Homo sapiens: one gene and its partner. The protein of the gene in region 2 purifies or fractionates together with the protein of the main gene of each other region. This does not show direct contact. Each region holds a gene or a part of one and is shown on either strand. Other genes may lie near its edges.

Region 1 (7,025 bases), on a different chromosome or scaffold from region 2:
TGCCTCAGCCTCCCAAAGTGCTGGGATTACAGGTGTGAGCGACCAGGCTTGGCCTATTTTCTTATATCAGAAATGTTTAGTGAAAATTGGAGGTGAAATTTGAAACAACACTCAGGACCTTTGTTGAGGCTAGGCATTTTATAATATAGATTCCCTGGAGATGACGGGGGTTGGCTGGTGCTGGAACTTGAGCCCTATCTGGCCTTTTGTAAGTGATAGAGAATTGAGAATTGAAGGCGTGCTTCCCACTGTGGTGTGACCTTGTGAGCTGGAGTCATCTAAGAAATCCCAGTCGGTGGTTTGTCCATATACCATGATTTCTCTTTAGAAATATAAACAGTAGGCTGGGCATGGTGGCTCACACTTGTAATCCCAGCACCATGGGAGGCCGAGATGGCGGGGGGGCGGGGCGGGGGGGGGGAAATCACCTGAGGTCACGAGTTCAAGACCAGCCTGACCAACATGGAGAAACCCTATCTCTACTAAAAATGCAAAACTTAGCCAGGCATGGTGGCAGGTGCCTATAATCTTAGCTACTCAGGAGCTGAGGCAGGAGAATCGCTTGAACCAGGGAGGTGGAGGTTGCAGTGAGCCAAGACTGTGCCACTGCACTCTAGCCTGGGTGACAGAGCAAGACTCCGTCTCAAAAACACACACACACACACACACACACACACGCACGCACACAAAAAAGAGATCTGTCAAGATAAAAAGCTCAATAATAGGCTAGGTGCAGTGGCTCATGCCTGTAATCCCAGCACTTTGGGAGGCGGAGGTGGGCAGATCACGAGGTCAGGAGTTCAAGACCAGCCCAACCAACATGGCGAAACCCTGTCTCTACTAAAAATACAAAAATTAGCCAGTTATGGTGGTGTGTGCGTATAGTCCCAGCTACTCCGGGAACTGAGGCAGAAGAATTGTTTGAACCTGGGAGGCGGAGGTTGCGGTGAGCCGAGATCACACCACTGCACTCCAGCCTGGGCGACAAGAGCAAAACTCCATTTGAAAAATAAAATAAAATGAAATAAAAATAAGAAATAGTGAAAATAAATAACATTCCCGAAGAGAGAAAATATAACCCCTGAGAAGGGAGAATTGGGCAAAAGTTAAAACGAACTTAAGTTCTGAGTAATGTCTGTTTGAATCTACAAGTAATAAATGCATTCTTTTAACTTCTGGATTAAATCATACATCTTAAATAGCCTTTTTGTTTAGTTCACTCAAAAGAATGCTTTTTGCTTTTGCTGTGTGGTACTTGCAAAATCAGGAGGGGTTTACTCTAAAATAGTTTTCCCTGCAGCATTCTTTGGGGCTATGGGAATGCTCAAATCAGCGGCCAGCCTTTGCTTCTCATTGCCTCCCTCTCCCCAGGCAGTTCTCCCTGCTCTGATTGTGTCTCTACTAAATGGGCCTCCTAGGAAATGGATGTTCATTCCCTGGCTTCAATTAAGTTAGCTCCAGATTGTGGCCGTCTTTCAAGTAGAGGACAGCTGAGCTTAGAATACTAACATTTCTCCCTAGATGAGGAAGGATAGATGTCAAAGGAATTCTTTTCTGACACTTCTCATATGACCTTTATGTGTCTTTTCTCAGAAGCAATATTTTGTTCAAGCCAGATGTGTTCTTGGTGTGTCAGTATGTGTAAAAACATGGCCTTCGAATATTGACATTTAGGATTTGGACAAGGTGAACCTATTTGTCAATTGAGTTAGGAAACATACTTTGTTAATAGCTCTTTCCACAATTATCTGAAATTGTTATCAGTTTGAACATGATGAAATCTGATGCCTCTTTCACTCTATACAGTTATTTGCCACTTAATGATGGGGATGCATTCTGAGAAATGTGTCATTAGTGGATTTTGTTGTGTGAACGTCATAGTGTACACAAACCTTGATGGGATATCCTACTACCTACCTAGGCCCTGTGGTACAGTCTGTTGCTCCTAGGCTACAAAGCTATACAGCCTGTTACTGTACTGAATATTGTAGGCAATTGGAACACACTGGTAAGTATTAGCATATCTAAACATAGCAAAGGTACAGTGAGAATACTTTTTTTTTTTTTTGAGACGGAGTCGCATCTTTGTTACTCAGGCTGGAGTGCAATGGCATGATCTCGGCTCACTGCAATCTCTGCCTCCCAGGTTCAAGTGATTCTCCTGCCTCAGCCTCCCAAGTAGTTGGGATTACAGGCGTGCACCACCATGCCCAGCTAATTTTGTATTTTTAGTAGAAACGGGGTTTTACCATGTTGGTCAAACTGGTCTTGAACTCCTGACCTCAAGTGATCCACCCGCCTCTGCCTCCCAAAGTGCTGGGATTACAGGCGTGAGCCACTGTGCCTGGCTGACAATGTGGTGTTATCATCTTAGGGGACCCCTGTTGTATATGCAGTATGGTTGACCTAAATGTCGTTATTCAGGGCACTCCTCCCCAGGGCTGCTTAAAAATCCATTCACTGGCTTGGAAGTTCTACCTAAAAATAGCAAGTCAGCTGGCATTTTTAATGAACATATTGAAATACCAGAGAATGAAATTCCTGTCTCTGCTGACCATTTTAATACACGTGTTCAGTCGTGTGGTTTAACACATTCAGGTAGATTGGGAGTGAGACTTGTGATTGAATTTGGGCTCTTTCGCTGATCAGCTGTTTGACCTTTAGAATATGAACTATAGTTGTAAGTTTAAAATTGCTTTCCTGTGATGTGTAGAAAATAAGGCTGTAACAAAGCAAGAAATATTTTTCAAATATGCTCCTGGAAAAATAAAATTATTGCTATTTAGCTTTGCAGGAAGAAACTTCAATAAATCTACAAGGTAGGTGCTATAATCTCATTTTACAGAGAGATATGAAACTCATATGAAAGGAGTTCACCTCCTTTCTCCCGAAATTCATTTAGAGCATCTATGAGTTTCATATCTGTCTGTAAAATGAGATTATAGTGCCTACTTTGTCAAGGTTATCGTGAAAATTATCACACATCATATGTGAAAAATAATATATATTTAATATAATTCCTGGCAGGCAGTATTAAATATTCACTAAGTAGAACTGTACTTAAGTGCAACTAGCAGAGTGACAACACATTTTAACAATGTTTCAATAACAATACAATTTTGGACTTTTAAATTTTTTTTTTGGAGTCTCGCTCTGTCGCCTAGGCTGGAGTGCAGTGGCAGGATCTCGGCTCATGGCAACCTCCACCTCCTGGGTTCAAGCAGTTCTCCCTGCCTCAGCCTCCTGAGTAGGTAGGATTACAGGTGCCTGCCACCACCCCTGGCTAATTTTTGTATTTTTAGTAGGGACAGGATTTCACCATGTTGGCCAGGCTGGTCTCGAACCCCTTACCTCAGGTGATGCACCTGCCTCGGCCTCCTAAAGTACTGGGATTACAGGCATGAGCCACTACGCCCAGCCTAAAGATTTTTTTAATACAGGGGAAATTATTAGAAATTTCTGGGTTTCCAACATTCGAAAGCTTTTGAAAGGTGATAAAGTATTATGATGAAATCATTAGTCTTCTCACTGAAGTGAAGATTAAGGTAACACATTCATTTGTAGTATTAAGAAGTATTGTAAAACAAAAATCTTCCCAGGCACAGTGGTTCAGGCCTATAATCCTAGCACTTAGGGAGGCTGAGGCAGGAGGAAGGAGATCACTTGAGGCCAGTAGCTCAAGACCAGCCTGGGCAACATAGTGAGACCCCCTGTCTGTCTGTTGGTCTGTCATGTTCGTTTGTTCTCTCTCTCAAGACATAGGGTCTTGCTGTATTGCCCAGGCTAGTCTTGAACTCGGGCCTCAAGTGATTCTCCCACCTCGGCCTCCCAAAATGCTGGAAAGGCATGAGCCACTCTGCCTGGCCCGAGACCCTGTCTCTTAAAAAAAAAAAAAAAAAAAATTCTAGGCCCAGTGCGGTGGCTCATGCCTGTAATCCCAGCACTTTGGGAGGGCAAGGCAGGCAGATCACCTGAGGTTAGGAGTTAGAGACCAGCCTGGGCAGCATGGTGAAACCCTGTCTCTACTAAAAATACAAAATTAGCCAGGTGTGGTGGCGCATGCCTGTGATCCCAGCTACTTGGGAGGCTGAGGCATGAGAATCACTTGAACATGGGAGGCAGAGGTTATAGTGAGCCAAGATCGCGCCATTGCACTCCAGCCTGGGCAACAAGAGCGGAAACTAGATCTCAAAAAAAAAAAAAAAAAAAGATATAATAGCAGTTGCAGTTTGAGTGCTTACTATGAGCCAAGTTTCATTTAATCTTCACAATAACCTTCTGAGTTAAGTGTCATTGTCCTCACTTTGTAAATTAGGAAACTTGAGGCTTTACTAGGTTAAGTTGTACTGGGAACTGTGCTGTAACCACATAGCACACGTCTCTAAATGGGGACTTACAATTAGTTTGAACTAATATAGGCCAAGCCAGGGGTCAGCAGACCTTTTTAATTATTTTTTTTCAGATGGGGTCTTGCTTTGTTGCCCAAGCTGGTCTTGAACTGCTGGACTTAAGCCATCTTCCCGCCTCAGCCTCCCTAGCAGCGGGGACTATAGGCATGCACCATCACCCCTGGCCAGTAGTCCTTTTCTGCGAAGGTCTTAACCAAACGTTTTTGGTTTTGTGGGCCATACAGTCTCTGTCCCAGTTGCTCATTACTCAGTTTTGCTGTTGTAGCACAAAAGCAGCCATAGATAATAGGTAAGTGAATGAATGTGTCTATTTCAATAAGACTTTATGGACACTGGAATTTGAAGACTTTTTTCTTTTTATTCATTACTTCCTGCACAGTGATAATTTCTTTTGGGCTGGGGGGACAGGTTCTCACTATGTGCCCAGGCTGAGTGCAGTGGTGCAGTCGTAGCCCACAACAGCCTTGAACTCCTGGGTTCAAGCAGTCCTCCTTCCTCTGCCTCCTGAGTAGCTGGGATTACAGGTGTGCACCACCACACCTGGCTAATTTTTAAATTTTTTGTAGAGACGGGTCTCACTATGTTGCCCAGGCTGGTCTCAAACTCCTGGCCTCAAGCAGTCTGCCCACATAGGCATCGCAAAGTGCTGGGATGACAGGCATGAGTCACTGCACCTGGTTGGAATTTGAATTTAATATAATTTTTACATGTCTCAAAATATTATTCTTCAGATATTTTTAACCTTTTAAAAATGTGAAATTCATAGGCTGGGCACAGTGGCTCACGCCTGTAATCCCAGCACTTTGAGAGGCTCATGCGGGTGGGTCACCTGAGGTCAGGAGTTAGAGACCAGCCTGACCAACATGGAGAAACCATGTATCTACTAAAAATACAAAATTAGCCGGGCATGGTGGCCCATGCCTGTAATCCCAGCTACTCGGGAGGCTGAGGCAGGAGAATCGCTTGAACCCAGGAGGCTGAGGTTGTGGTGAGCTGAGATCACGCCATTGCAATCCAGCCTGGGCAACAAGAGCGAAACGACGTCTCAAAAAAAAAAAAAAAAAAACAGCGAAATTCATTCTTAGCTCAAAGGCAGTACAAAAACTGACGGCAGGCCAGATTTGGCCCACACGCTATAGTTTGCAGCCCCTGTGCTAAATCATAAAAGTATTTTTTCCTGGAAGGTCATAGTTATTCATACTGTGAATATTATTTAAGAGAGCATTGAAGATTGTTTTTATATTAAAATGGAACCCGTTACCTTATGGAATAAAACCCAGAATTTAATTTTCAAGATAAAACTTGGAGGCGGGGGCCGGGCGTGGTGGCTCACGCCTGTAATCCCAGCACTTTGGGAGGCCAAGGTGGGCGGATCACGAGGTCAGAAGTTCGAGACCATCCTGGCTAACACAGTGAAACCCTGTCTCTACTAAAAATACAAAAAATTAGCCGGGTGTGGTGGCAGGTGCCTGTAGTCTTAGTTACTCGGGAGGCTGAGGCAGGAGAATGGCATGAACCCAGGAGGCGGAGCTTGCAGTGAGCAGAGCTCATGCCACTGCACTCCAGCCTGGGCGACAGAGCGAGACTCCGTCTCAAAAAAAAAACAAACAAAAAAAAAAACAAAAAAAACTTGGAGACGGCTGTGGTGGCTCACATCTGTAATCCCAGCACTTTGGGAGGTTGAGGCAGGCGCGTCACCTGAGATCACGAGTTCGAGACTAGCCTGGCCAATGTGTTGGAACCCCGTCTCTACTAAAAATACAAAAAAAATAAAAAATTAACCAGGCGTGGTCGCACTCCTGTGTTCCCAGCTACAGGGGAGGCTGAGGCAGGAGAATAGCTTGAACCTGGGAGGAAGAGGTTGTAGTGAGCCGAGATCGCGCCACTGTACTCCAGCCTAGCGACAGAGCAAGACTCTGTCTCAGAAACAAAAACAAAAAAACTTGGATTCTAAAGATACGTTGTTCTGTAGATGGTCTCTGGACCGTACTTTCCTCCTTTCTCCTCAATTTCATTTAGAGCATAAAAGCACTTTCTTAGGCTGTTTGAAGCACTTGGATTGGAAATGTTGCCTGCAGTAACCTGTATAAACATCAATATATCAATAACAGATTATTAGTGCAAAATTTAAATGTCCAAAAACTGAAAGGGAATAATGATCGGTGACTGGGTCTATGAAATTACAAAAGTAAAGCCTAAGGGAGATGGCAAGCTTTCCTATTCTGCTACCCTTGTCAGCTGATGTCTTGGTAGAATTAATAAAGTACTCTTTTTAAACTCAAAAACATCTGTTTTGAATAATACTTTTTTTTTTAACACCCTACCTTTGAGGTAACTATTGTTAATAGTTTGTGTATATCCTTCTGGAATTCTTCTATTCCTGTAGACCTTGCAGATACTTTTTTTTTTTCTACTTGCAGTTATTTTTATTTTTTGTTTTTTGAGAGTGTCTTGCTCTCTCACCCTGGCTGGAGTGTGGCGGTGTGACGATAGCTCAACCTCCTGGGCTCAAGCAATCCTCCCACCTCAGCCTCCCAAGTAGCTGGAACTATAGGCATGCGCAACCAAGCCGAAATACTTTTTTTTTTTTTTTTTTTGTAGAGACGGTTTCACCAT
Region 2 (7,025 bases):
TCCTGGATTCAAGCGATTCTCATGTCTCAGCCTCCTGAGTAGCTGGGATTACAGGCAGGCACCACCACACCCAGCTAATTTTTGTATTTTTTAGTAGAGAAGAGGTTTCATCATGTTGTCCAGGATGGTCTCGATCTTCTGACCTTGTGATCCACCCGCCTCGGCCTCCCAAAGTGCTGGGATTACAGGCATGAGCCACCATGCCTGGCCAAAACTCATTTTAAGAGGTAATCCCAGCTACTTGGGAGACTGAGGCAGGAGGATCACTTGAGCCCAGGAGTTCAAGGCTACAGTGAGCCATGATCACACCACTGCTCTCCAGCCTGGGGGCCCTGTCTCTAAACAATATATATTTTTTAATTTAAAGGTTTCTTTTGCTATTTTAAATTGCCCAGGTTTTGATCTGGAGTGTTTGTTTGTTGTTCGGGTTTCTTTTTTTTTTTTTTTTTTTTGAGGCGGAGTCCTATTCTGTTGCCAGGCTGGAGTACAGTGGCGCGATCTCAGCTTACCGCAACCTCTGCCTCCCAGGTTCAAGTGATTCTCCTGTCTTAGGCTCCGGAGTAGCTGGAATTACAGGTGCCTGCCACCACACCTGGATAACCTTTTGTATTTTTAGTAGAGGCGGGTGGCGTTCGCCATTTTGCCCAGGCTGGTCTCGAACTCCTAAGCTCAGGCAATCTGCCCACCTCGGCCTCCCAAATTGCTAGGATTACAGGCATGAGCCTGTATAATTTTAAATGGTGGCAAACCCGGCTACAAGTATGTTCTTCTCTGCCAGTTAACTTCCCCAAATTGACTGAGGTGTAAAAAAGTGAGCAGTAACCAGACCGTCACTTTATTTATCACCCTAACCCGCCTGAAAAGGGACGATGTGTATATCTTTTCCAGATCTGAAAGGAAGAATGAAAGAGAGAGATTAAGTTCACGTAAGTGATCAAGCTCAACTTCTCACAGCTGCTGCGGCTGTGCATTCTTGACTCTCTAATAGAGGAAGACTTCTGTCTTCTACCACCTGTGAGTCAGAGGTAAAAGACAGTCTTTGATTTTATGCTTTATTGGAAATTCAGTACTGGTTTTTTTTCTGTACCAGTACTCTTTTCTGGAGCAGTTTGCATTTATTTTGTTTGAAAATGTTGTTTAAAAGGCAGTGGTGGCCCACGGCTGTAATCCCAGCACTTTGGGAGGCCAAGGCAGGAGGATTACCTGAGCCAGGGGTTCAAGACCAGCCTGGGCAACATAGTAAAACCTTGTGTCTACACAAATTACTTAAAAATTAGCTGGGCATGGTAGTGCATGTCTGTAGTCCCAGCTACTTGAGAGGCTGAGGTGGGAGGATCACTTGAGCCCAGGAGTTTGAGGCTGCAGTGAGCCGTGATCACACCACTGCACTCCAGCCTGGGTGACAGAGCAAGACTTGGTCTAAAAAGTTAAAGGGAACTACAGAAATAGAACTTGTCCTTATTGTGACTGGAATGAAAGTTACTGAGGATTGCGTGTGTAGTTAGGCTGCAGGCCTTTTCTTTCTTTCCTCCTTTGATGGCCATGAGTTGTATTCGTTTCTGTCACAGCCTGGGTGATTCCGGGTCTAACTGCTTCTCTTCTGCATGTCTCCCTGTTGGAGATCTCCTCGCATCAGGTTGCCTGCTCAGTCCGCAAGGCATTTTCAAGTTGCCGATGGTCTTCCGATGGTGGCTTTGGGATGCTTCCTTTTCGTCATTCCATGTACAGTCATATTGTTTGTTTTATTTAAAACTGATTGGACTTGGTCATTTTTTTTTCCCTGCAGGTTTCAGCGCTGAGGAGGCCTGAGTTCCGTCATGGCCCTCTATTATGACCACCAGATAGAAGCCCCGGATGCAGCAGGGTCACCCTCATTTATCAGCTGGCACCCTGTCCATCCATTCTTGGCAGTTGCTTACATCAGCACAACCTCAACAGGCAGCGTGGATATTTACCTGGAGCAAGTGAGTGCTCAGAAGCAAGGAGCCTGACTGTGGTAGCTTCTGGCTCATGTTGTTTGTGTTGCTGTTGTCCTTGTGTGTGTGCACATGTGTGTGTGTGCCTATGGGTGTGTGTGTGTATACATGCATCTGTGTGTGCGTGTATGTGTATTGGTGTGTGTATGCGCATATGTATGTCTGCATCTGTGTGTGTGTGCGCACACGTGGGTGTGTGCATATGGGTGTGTGTGTGCATCTGTATGCTTGTATGTGGGGGGGTGTATGCGTGTGTGTGCACACGTGTGTGTGTGTGCGTGTGGTGCGTGTGTGTATTTTCAAACGAACTCTACTCTAGCTTATTCATGAAGAAAACGACATCTATGAGGCCAGGCGCAGTGGCTCACGCCTGTAATCCCAGCACTTTGGGAGGCCGAGGTGGGTGGATCACTTGAGGTTAGGGGTTCGAGACCAGCCTGATCAACATGGAGAAACCCCATCTCTACTAAAAATACAAAATTAGCCGGGCATGGTGGCTCATGCTTGTAATCCCAGCTACTCGGGAGGCTGAGGCAGGAGAATCGCTTGAACCCAGGAGGCAGGGGTTGCAGTGAGCGGCGATCACGCCATTGCGCTCCAGCCTGGGCAACAAAAGCAAAACTCTGTCTCAGAAAAGAAAAAAAAGAAAACGACATCCGTCATCAGTTTTCACAGAGGCCAAATCCCAGGGTTATAAAAGCCCTAGTATGTGGGCAGTTCTTTCACGCTGGCTATTTTGGTGGCTTGGGGACATGTTTAGGAATCCTTCATGCTTATCAGCATTAAGCCACTATCAGTTCACAGTCATCACCAGAAATGTCCCCACAGTGCTGTTTGTGGATCCTGAGGCATCTTCCTCTGTCAGTGCCCTCCTGCACGCTCCATAGGGGCCATTTGGAACTCTAATCATTTCCACAAACTGGGTGGCTTTAAACAACAGGAAGGTATTCTGGCAGCTCTGGAGGCGAGAACTCCAAAATCAGGTGTCAGCAGGGCCCGCTGGCTCTGAAGGCTGAGGGGAGTGTCTGCCCCGAGCTGCTGTCCTGCTCCTGCTGTTCCCAGCAAGCCTTGGTGCTCCCTGGCTGGCAGATGCGCTGCTCCAGCCCTGCCTCTGGTGTCATCCGGCCTTCCCTTCTGTATGTCTGCGTCTCTTCTCCTCTTCCTAAAAGGACATCAGGCATATGTAACTAGGGCCTGCTCTAATGACCTCACCTGAGCTTACCCACATCTGCAAAGACCCTGTTTCCAAAGGACGCCATGTCACAAGGACCAGGGATAGGACTTCCACATATCTTTGTGGGGACACAATTCACCCCCTAACAGAAACGTTCCCCAAGCTCCTCAGACTTCGATAATCACCCTCTCGGTGCCCAGTGCACCTCATATTCCATAAAGAAAATGAGGTGCCAGGTGCGGTGGCTCACGCCTGTAATCCCAACACTTTGGGAGGCCGGGGTGGGTGGATCATGAGGTCAGGAGATCAAGACCATCCTGGCTAACACGGTGAAACCCCGTCTCCACTAAAAATACAAGAATTAGCCGGGCGTGGTGGCGGGCACCTGTAGTCCCAGCTACTCAGGAGGCTGAGGCAGGAGAATGGCATGAACCCAGGAGGCAGAGCTTGCTGTGAGCCGAGATCACGCCACTGCACTCCAGCCTGGGCAACAGAGTGAGACTCCATCTCAAAAAATATAAATAAATAAGAAAATGAGGTTTCCTCCTCTACTCACTCTTCAGCCCTCTGCAGGCTCCCTATTGCCACCACAACTTCACCCAAGCAGCGACAGTCATCAGTTGCTTCTAGGTGTCACCCCCTGAGTGTTTTGGGGTCCTTGTCTGTACCACACTCCTGTGAAGTCCTCTGGGAAACATGCCCGAGAGCGCAGGGGTAGGGCGTTCCCTGCCCGGCCTCCATGGCTTTGCCAGCTCTTCCTCCATTTCCAGCTTGTGAGCACCATGGCCTTCTGCAGAGCTTGGTCAGGGCTCCTCTCCATTTCTTCCTTCTCCTGTGATCTGAGCATCCCCAGTGGCTTGCAGACATACATCTCCTGCCTAGAAGTTCCCTCTGAGCTGTAAGCTTAGGGACCCAGCTGCCTTCCTGACATCTCTAGGGTGTTTCAAGGAGACCTCAGACTGTACAAAACTGAACTGAAATTGTCCCCCACCCTTCCCCTGCCTCATATCTCCTGCTCACTGAGATGGGCACCTCCCATCTCAATGAAAGTCACCCCCTTTATCCTGGTTTCTAGAACAAGAACCTGGGCATGACTGTTGACATTTCCCACTCCCCTACCTTGTAATCCATCACTAGATCCTCCCAGTTTCTCCCCCGGAACCTCTGGCGAGTCTGCTGCTGCTTGCCCTTCCAACCGCCCTTCCCTCCTCCAGGTTCCCATCCCCCTCTCCTGGACACCAGTACAGCTTCCTACTGTGGCAGCTGTGCCCTCACAGGCCTCCTCTACTTTACACGGCAACCAGGCCTGGCCTGTCTTGGCATCACAGATGGAATCACTCCCTGCTCCCACCTCCCCGGCCCTGTGCTGCTCTTTGGGTGAACATGGAGTCCCTGATGTGGCCCCTAGCGCCTCCCAGGTCTGGCTCTGTCACCTGTCACATCAGGCTCACCTTCCTTGATGCTGACACAGCCTTGCACAGCCTTCCTCGGCCTTCCAGCCCTGCACATGCTGTGCCACCTGCAAAGAAGACACTCCTTCATCCATTTTTGTAATTAATGCATTAATCCTTCAGGTGAAAGTGGCTAAGTGGCCCCTTAGGAACTGCTCCCCCCTCCACACACACACACACACACACACACACACACACACACACACACGCCCTTGCAGCGCGATGCAGCGCTGGTCAGCGGCTCCCCTGTTGCCAGCAGGCTCCTCCATATACTGGCAGCTTTGCGAAGGCCGTGCCAGACTTAGGGCTCAGTCCAGCCCCAGCACCAACCCCACTTTTGCCCATTTTTTTGGGTAGATTCTCCCTTGCAGGAGCCTATAACATATATGGTAAATGGGATATTTTTTAAAATAAATATTATTAAATTCCAAAGTTATAGCAATTTTAGGTAAAATTTTTAAATTTAGAAGATCTAAAGCATACTATTATAAAACTAGTCAATAGCATATTTCTGTGTTTCCAGTTGGCACAAGGAAAACTTCAGGATTTCAAAATAGTGATCTATTGGACAATGATGAGATCACAGAAGATGGCTCCTAAGCCCAGTGGAACAACTGGGGGCAAACCAAGTTAATCTCTGAAAACGCACTTATATCTTCCCCAAAGCTGCTGCTTTAGAAAATTTTAGAAAACACAGCACATGGCCGGGCACGGTGGCTCACGCCTGTAATCCCTGCACTTTGGGAGGCCGAGGCGGGCAGATCATGAAGTCAGGAGTTTGAGACCAGCCTGGCCAATATGATGAAACACTGTCTCTACTAAAAATACAAAAATTAGCTGGGCTTGGTGGCGCGCCTGTAGTCTCAGCTACTTGGGAGGCTGAGGCAGGAGAATCGCTTGAACCTTGGAGGCGGAGGTTGCGGTGAGCTCAGATCATGCCACTGCAGCACTCCAGCCTGGGCTACAGAGTGAGAATCCATCTCAGAAAAAAAAAAAGAGGAAACGCAGCACATATCTCACAAGCTGTCATTAGTGACATCACCACATCACACAGCCTTTGAAAAGCTCCACTGTAGACGCGTGAAAGAAGGAGAGTATGAATGGCACTAACCTGTCACTATTATTCTGAAAATAATTTTCACCTTTCAGATCCCTGAAAGGGTCCTGGGGTCTCTGGACAACACTTTGAGATCCCTGGGGCCACAAACCTCACCTGCTGGCTCGCTGGTGGTTTTTGTAGATAAGGTTTTAGGGAACCCAGCCACGCACTAAAATGCGTGCCAGCCATCCAGCAGCCATGGGGAGGAGGTGGCACATCATGACAAGGTGGCACTCCATGAGAAGCTGGTCGGGGTTGCCAGCTGAGCACAAGTTACCTTCTGCTTTGGTAGCTCAGCTAGGGGCAAGGTTGGTGCGTTTTTATGAAAAATTAAAGAGTCTACTGAGAACATTGCCCCATTGCCTTAATAGCTTTTGTACCTTGTCGCCAATGTGGAGTCCACAGATCACACAGAAGTTTTGTTTGTTTGTTTGTTTGTTTTTGGAGACAGAGTCTTGCTCTGTCGCCCAGGCTGGAGTGCAGTGGTGCGATCTGGGCTCGCTGCAACCTCTGCCTCCTGGGTTCAAGCAATTCTCCTGCCTTAGCCTCCCGAGTAGCTGGGACTACAGACGCCCGCCATCACACCTGGCTAATTTTTGTATTTTTAGTAGAGACGGAGTTTCACCAAATTGGCCCAGCTGGTCTCGAACTCCTGACTTTGTGATCCACCCACCTCAGCCTCCCAAAGTGCTGTAATTACAGGAGTGAGCCGCCGTGCCCGGCCTAGACAGAAGTTCTTAAAAGTAGCTGTCCCTCTCTGAACTGTGGGAATTTGCCTCTCATCCAATGCAGGGGGAGTGCGTGCCAGATACACACGTCGAGAGGCCGTTCCGGGTTGCTTCCCTGTGCTGGCACCCGACGCGGCTGGTGCTGGCTGTGGGCTGGGAGACTGGAGAAGTGACGGTGTTTAACAAGCAGGACAAGGAGCAGCACACGATGCCCCTGACACACACAGCCGACATCACCGTGCTCCGTTGGAGCCCCAGTGGAAACTGCCTGCTGTCTGGGGACAGGGTGAGTCAACACGCGCAAGACGCTGTTTTCAGACCTTGACCCTTTCTGACCATGCTCGAGAGTATGAAAGATCAAAATATGGGAACCGTGCTGTTGCCAAATTCAGTTGATCTTGTCAGATGCAATTGTAGATTTTGTTTTATATTGGAAGCAAGGCTTGAAAATTTGCCACTCTGTGGCAAAGGTGTGTCTGCACCTTTATAAATGAACTTTGCTGGGAAACTGCATTCGTAAAGATACGTGCCCAGATACTGTCACTTTTCCCTAGGCCTGTTTGTCTAGCTCAGGGCTTCTTAACCAGGGTTGGTTCT

What was found. Proteins that work in one complex are often made in the same cells at the same time.
Region 1: the proteins of IFT140 (region 2) and TULP3 purify together in Homo sapiens (affinity purification with mass spectrometry; 6 studies listed by BioGRID and IntAct, with this or other methods). This does not show direct contact.

What each region holds. Positions count from the first base shown.
Region 1 is NC_000012.12:2,893,890-2,900,914, forward strand, and holds part of TULP3 (tubby-related protein 3), read left to right. Parts: intron 1-7,025. UniProt on the Homo sapiens protein: Negative regulator of the Shh signaling transduction pathway: recruited to primary cilia via association with the IFT complex A (IFT-A) and is required for recruitment of G protein-coupled receptor GPR161 to cilia, a promoter of PKA-dependent basal repression machinery in Shh signaling.
Region 2 is NC_000016.10:1,602,059-1,609,083, reverse strand, and holds part of IFT140 (intraflagellar transport protein 140 homolog), read left to right. Parts: intron 1-887; exon of another isoform or gene 888-1,025; intron 1,026-1,786; 5' UTR 1,787-1,817; coding exon 1,818-1,964; intron 1,965-4,601; exon of another isoform or gene 4,602-4,669; intron 4,670-6,492; coding exon 6,493-6,714; intron 6,715-7,025. UniProt on the Homo sapiens protein: Component of the IFT complex A (IFT-A), a complex required for retrograde ciliary transport and entry into cilia of G protein-coupled receptors (GPCRs).